2 linked regions of the Homo sapiens genome follow. The protein of the gene in region 1 purifies or fractionates together with the protein of each later gene. This does not show direct contact. Each region holds a gene or a part of one and is shown in the gene's direction. Other genes may lie near its edges.

Region 1 (3,500 bases):
CCCCTTTCTCATTCCTTTACTGTGCATAAAGTGACTGGCATTTGTGCACAAGCATATTACCTTTTTATTTTTAAACTAAATGGCCAATGATATGTTTTGATCAACATCAGATGGAGATAAGATGGGGATAAATACTGATTCTGTGGCAATGCCCCCTTTCTCCATTAGTGGCATGCTCATTCAGCTCTTATCTTTATACTTCATTAAGTTATTTTGCCTCATCATTTAATAAAAATCAATAACAAAAAATCCTTCCATGCTTGAAGCTAGTAGTTCAAGATCCTGTCTCCACAAAAAAAAAAAAAAGAAAAAAATTAGCCAGGTATTGCATGCCTGTAGTCACAACTACTTAGGAGGCTGAGGCAGGAGGATCACTTGAGTCCAGGAGGTTGAGGCTGCAGTGAGCTATGGCTGCACCACTGCACTCCAGCCTGGGTGACAGAACGAGACCTTGTCTCTTATAAAAAAAAAAAAAATCCTTCCATACCTTGTTAAATTTGAGAATTTTGGTGTTTTTCACGTGTCATTCTAAAACCAACCAGTTTTTAAACTCTTGTACATAGCTGTTACATGTAGGGCAATATGTCTTTAAGTAGGGATAAGTTACTCTAAAAGAAATGAATCTTAGATAGTTTTCCCACCAGGCATCCTATTGCTTAAGTAAACTTTCTGTTTGAAATGAAACAAATAGTTTTACAGTAGCTAGCATTTATTGAATGCCTGTGTGACTTTGTATTAATCCTACCTTGAATGAATGAGGAAAGGAGCTCAGAAAAATAACTTGGTAATTTGCCTATGTGGCCCAGGGTCAATGTAAGAGCTGAAGTCCTGCTCTTTTCACAATATTACATTGTCTCCTTTGTTTCCTGGCCACTCATATTACAATCTCCTAAAAGCAACCTGTTATTGCTCTTCTGAATATGAGAAACCCAGTGGAAAGTAATTTGTCCCCGCTTCACAAACATTTTTAATTATGTTGAGGCATAGAAATATTTAAAGTAGTTTGCATTGGAATTGAAAAACTGAACTATGAGTTTCTTCCACTTCATTAAAAAGTTTCTTAAAATTTACATTGTTCCCTACATAAAAGCTGAGCAGAATTTTATCAGGCAATTGCCTCAAAGTTATAATCTGGACAATCTTTCTGTAATAAAACCCATATGTCATTGGGGAAAGGTGCAGAGCCCTGGCAGAGAGGGCTGGTCTTGAGAGAGGTTCTGCACCCAATCTCGTTAACCAGGGTGCCTCTGGTAATCCCTCATCCCTCACCAGTGAGAAATCAATCTGTACCACTGAATCTTTTTCAACCAGCCACCAGAAAAATTTACTGCAGAGAAGGCAGTTTGGGGATAGTTATCGTGGAAAGTGAGCCAGAAGCAAGGCTAAATGTAGGATGGAGGAATTGGAGAGTCTAAAGAAGAGATTATATTAAACCACACACCACTTTCAGAGCAGGCACAGTGGAGTCCTCCTTTCAGCCCTGACCTCTCCAAGTATACCCAGGTATTTACAGCTGCCATGAACTGGATAGCCCTGGAGGAACTACGAAAGTGGTGGGGGATAACAGAAACAGTGGAAACCTGAAAGTTGATTGTAGTCTATCCATTTGCTGTCTCTCAGTGTGTAGTAGCCAGTCCCCTCTCCACACTCTGCAGCATTTCACATGTTAACCCTATAGTGACAGTTTCAATTGTGGCTTTCTCAATTTGTGATCTATGTACGACATAATAGGGCCTGTAAATCATGACTTGACATAGGGGTCATGCTTCTCTCCTGCACGGCATACACCAGTAGCTGATGACCAGTGGGCCCCTCTTGGCATAGTTATTAGAATGGAAGCGGTGTTGCCTTCCTGTGAAACCTTGTAATCTTAGAGAATAAATCCAGAATCAAAAAAATAGTTGACAGGCTGGGCGAGGTGGCTCATGCCTATAATCCTAGCACTTTGGGAGGCCAAGGCGGGCAGATCAACTGAGGTCAGGAGTCCGAGACCAGCCTGGCCAACATGGTGAAAACCTGTCTGTACCAAAAATACAAAGAATTAGCCAAGTGTGGTGGTGCATGCTTGTAATCCCAGCTACTTGAGAGACTGTGGCAGGAGAATCACTTGAACCGGGGAGGCAGAGGTTGCAGTGAGCTGAGATTGCAACATTGCACTCCAACCTGGGCAACAAGAGCGAGACTCTGTTTCAAAAAAAAAGAAAATAGTTGACAGATTTCACTGACTCTATATAACACTCTCTCTCTCCCAATCTTGTTGTGTCTAGAATTGTTTTCTATATAATATAATACATTATGGGGAACAAAGAAAAAGGAGAAAATGGAGGAACTGGGAGTGCCAAGCTGAAGAACATGTAGTCTTACTCTGGCCATTCATCCTAGAATTATACCAAGCTACAACCATTGTGAAGAAGAAGGGACAGAACCAGGCAGTGGGGAATAGAAATGGCTTTCTCTTCTCTGTAAGCAGGCAGTAGTCATCTCTAAAGATTTTTCCCCAAAGAGATTTGAAATTCCTGATGGGAGCTTAAAAAGCTAAGAGTAAAATACATTTATTTATAAGACCCTACTAGAAGAGGTGTGTGTGGGTGTGTGTGTGTATGTGTGTGTGTGTGTGTGTGCGCGTGTAGACGAGGAATACAGAATAGTAGCAGAAGGCTGTCTCCCTACTCCTAATGGGATTTTGTAGCAGTATGTGCAAGTTTGTTTCAGAAGTCAAAAATGAACAGATGTTAGTATAAATTACCTCTGTGTCTGATGTCTTGCAAATTAAAAGCGCAGTTGGCATCACTAAACAATTTCACTAGGTTTGGGGGGGTTCGGTTAGCGGGCGGTGATTACTGTAGCAGGTCGGTAAGAATCTTCGCCCTGCAGCAGAGCAAGGATAAAGAAATGAGGAATAAAATAAGGGCTATATGAATTAATCAGAAATGTTAACATCTCTGATGACAAGTGAACAGGAGGGCACGTGCTCTGGAGCAGCCCCTGACCCACAGCAATTTCTCTGTGCACAAAAAGGGGTTGGTGCTTAGCATCTGATTTATAGGGCACAGCCCTCTTTTAGGGAGCGGCTGTGTCATACATTCGTATATCTCCTGTATGGGACTGGCGAGTAGGAAAACTTTCTCTCCTCCCATGTAGGAGATGATGTCTTTTGAATTACTTCTACTTTTACAGTGGTTTCCTGCAGCTCTGTGTACTTGGATTAGGTTGAAGGGGGAGGAATGATTGAGTAGAAAAAGGGTTGTTAAAAAGGATTGGTTAAATTCAAGGAGAGCTTGCCACTGAGAGACTTCAGAATATCTATTTATTTTTCCTTTTAAACCCTTTTGACCCCTTAAATTGTGTGGATCTTTTAAAATTCTAAGTCTTAAAATATTGGTCATTTTCCCATTTGGGGAAAAACAGTAAGGAGTTGGTGAGTCTGAAGGTCAGCAGGCAGAAATCATTGGTTAGAGCAATGCAGTGCTCCAGGCCCAGGATTTTTGGAACAAGGCTCT
Region 2 (3,500 bases), about 38 Mb from region 1:
CTGCTTGAGATCAAGGCAAAATATATTTGATAGATTATTAGAATATAAATGATATTGGGAACAAATAATGTATAGAAATGGCAAATTGTTAGCCTTTGTTGAGATTTTTAAATTAACATATTAATTTTTGCTTTGTTAAGACTTTATAAAGAACGATTAAGTCAGGTGGATGCAAAACTACAAGAAGTCATAGCTGGAAAAGCACCAGAATACTTGGAACCGCTGGCAACTTTACAGGAAAATATGCAAATTCGTACAAAGGTAGCAGGTAGGAAAGTGAAGAATCTTTTCCATATATAGAATGTAAACTCTTCAGTAGCTTTAAAAGGTGTTTATCAAGTAAGTGTTTTATGTTGATGGGATTACAAGCATATTTACATCGACCAGAATATTTTACTTTTAGTTAGCCCACAGTTACTGTATTTATTGAATACCTCTTGCTTTGCTCTGCTGCTGTAGGGGATTAAAAAAAAAAAAAGCCCTCAAGTTGTTTACAGTGTTGTTGAGAAGATAGTTCCACATTTGGTGAAACAACTGGAAACCATGATACTTTCATTAAGAGAGACTGTTACTATCACATTTTAATTCCCTATTAGATAAAGTTTAAGTGTTCTAGGCATTTTTTTAATACGTAAAAGTGATAGGATTTTTTTTAATTTATAAAAAATTTTAAAAATGTTTGATCAGGATATTATAGAACAGGAAACTTGCCTTGAACTAGATGATTTAATTTTTCCTTTTTACTTTGATAAGTTTGGTTACTCATTTGTGGCTACAAATAAACAAAGATGCACTATATTTGTATGGTTACATTTCAGTCTTATGTTTGTAAATAGGATCCAGCCTCAGTATCATGTCCTGGCACTCATAATCAAGGGATATATATATGATTTTTCATAGTCAAAAACTAAACTTTAATTAGTGGAGATGCTGGTTGTTTTTCTCTTATGTGGCACTAATTGACCCTTATGTACCTGTTAGATAATACCTAAGGCATTGTTGATAATAAGTTCTTTTTACTAAACCCTCCTTTAACCAAATTTTATTTTTGAGTGCTTAATATTATGTAGATGATATGATACTCTTCACTGCTATCTTTACATATTGACAACATACCCTTAGAAGTAAAAATATCCCTAATTTTCTTTGTTCTTTTAGATTACATGGATGATCAGGAAATATTACTTGAGTCGATTATTTACTTTTCTACTCTGGCCTCTTTTATATTTTGATTTTGCAGAGTAGTGTGTGTGAATGTGTTGCTGATGACGTAGTTCCAGATATCTGTCTCTTGCCTTTACTATACAAAGAGAGATAATTACATTTCTAGGGCCAACTATGGCATAAAGCTTAGAATACATATCCAGAGCTCTTTGCGTGCCGTTTTTGTAGTGACATATTTGCATGGCCATGTTACCTATTTTATACTATTGTCCTGTTAGGGTCTAAGTTAAACTATCTTGGGTATCCATCCTCTAGATAAAGTCCTGTCAGGAGCACTCCAGACATAATTGATTTTGTTATATCAGTTTATATACATTTACTCCTCGTGGATTCTTTGGATTGAAAATGATAGTTAAAAAAAAAGTGGTTTTGGTGGGGTATAGTATCTAGCTGTTACTCTGAGTATATGTGATTGATGACACCAGAGTTTATTATCTCCATTTCTATTTTGAGAAACTTGAGAGATTGTTTTTCACAGGAAAAGAGTTTTATTTTCATTTTGATTATTCTGTATCAAACATTTAGGAGTAATCTTTAGAAGAATAGATTAAGAACAAAAACTAGCAGTACAGTTTCTTTCTAGCTCTTATAATTTCTAATCTTTTTGGATATATATTTTAAGTGAGCCTTTTATTTTTAGTCTTTAAAGACAAAGTTAGACTCACTTTTCAATTTTTTCTTGATCCATCTTATTAAATACAGTGAGGACAGAATTCCTGTAGGGAAGTGATAATGGAACTTCTCATTGCTAACATAATCAGAGTAATTGTGTTTGGTTGCAGGAATCTATAGAGAGCTCTGCTTAGAATCTGTAAAGAACAAATATGAATGTGAAATTCAAGCTTCTCGCCAGCATTGTGAGGTACTGTCATTTTGCATAACTTTTAAGCTAATTTCATCTCTTCAAGCCTTTTCTGAGTGTAGTAGTTAAAAAAGTAAACTAAGTAAAACAATATTAAATAGTACTTTAGCTCATCATTTGTGTGTGATTAAAAAAAAAAAAGAATAGAGTTGCATTGGAAGCTGTATTGGAGATAGGACACAAAGAAAGGACCATAGAAAAAAACTGAGATAATTTTAGAAGTTTTGCAGCTGTTACTTTAAAAAGACTTTGCAACGATTATGTCACCTGGCATTACTGAAAATATTAGTATAATTAGTATAATGTGGATTAGATTTGCGAAATATACACTCAATGGTGCAGTTAGGATGTTGGGCTATAGAATTAGTTTCTGTCTGTCTAGACCTATTTCCACATCTTTGGGCAGAATTCTCTATTTATGGGAAAAAAAATAGGTATATTTTTCTGTATATTCTGTTTATTTTGCATTTAACCCATTTATGCTGAAGGTTGCAATTTTTTTGTGTGTGTGAAAAATCAGATCTTGGTGATGACCTTGAGCAGTAGGATATAAATAACTCCCACAAGCTTAACATTCCAGTAATGGAACACTAGGCATAAATGGGTTAAAATATTTATAGCATTTAAAAAACATAGTGCCCAGGCATGGTGGCTCACACCTGTAATCCCAAGAGTTTAGGAGGCTGAGGCGAGAGGATTTCTTGAGCTCAGGAAGTCAAGACCAGTCTGGGCAACATAGTGAGACCCCCCACCTCTACAAAAAATAGAAAAATTAGCTGGGCATGGTGGCAGGTGGCTGTAGTCCTAGCTACTCAGGAGGCTGAGGTGAGGGGATTGCTTGACCTTCGGAGGTTGAGGCTGCAGTGAGCTGTGATTGTGCCACTGTTCTGCAGCCTGGGTAACAGAGTGTCACCCTGTCTCAGAAATAGCAACTACAACAACAACAAACAAAAAAACCCCATAGTGCCCGTTTTGCAGATAACTTTTTATCAAATCTAGACAAGATTATAGATATACAGGTAGAAATAAGAGGACAAGTTCTATAACGATTCTTCTGTCACTTTAATGTGCCGTAAACTAAGAGTAGTTAGGTATAAAAATGATAGAGCTCATTGTTTCATTTTCATAATTACAACTGAGATTGATTATCTTTTTGGCGTTTACTAGCTGCTTGGATATTTTTTCCTAAGAAGTGCCTATTTGTATTTCTTGCCTTTGTGTTGGCTTTTAGTCTTTCCCTCATTGACTATATAAGTTCTTTATATATTCTGGCTATAAATGCTTTGCTGGTTGTATGCTTTGCAAATCTTTTTGCCCAGGTGGTACGATGTTTTCACTCTTTCTGATGACTTGCTGCAAAGAAGTTTTACATTTTAATGTAGTTGAATTTATTATCTTTTTATTTATGGGATGT

The links.
Region 2: the proteins of LIN52 (region 1) and BRMS1L purify together in Homo sapiens (affinity purification with mass spectrometry, with the first as the bait; one large-scale study listed by BioGRID). This does not show direct contact.

What each region holds. Positions count from the first base shown.
Region 1 is NC_000014.9:74,192,956-74,196,455, forward strand, and holds part of LIN52 (protein lin-52 homolog), read left to right. Parts: exon of another isoform or gene 1-322; intron 323-3,500.
Region 2 is NC_000014.9:35,832,838-35,836,337, forward strand, and holds part of BRMS1L (breast cancer metastasis-suppressor 1-like protein), read left to right. Parts: intron 1-140; coding exon 141-268; intron 269-2,006; coding exon 2,007-2,086; intron 2,087-3,500. UniProt on the Homo sapiens protein: Involved in the histone deacetylase (HDAC1)-dependent transcriptional repression activity. When overexpressed in lung cancer cell line that lacks p53/TP53 expression, inhibits cell growth.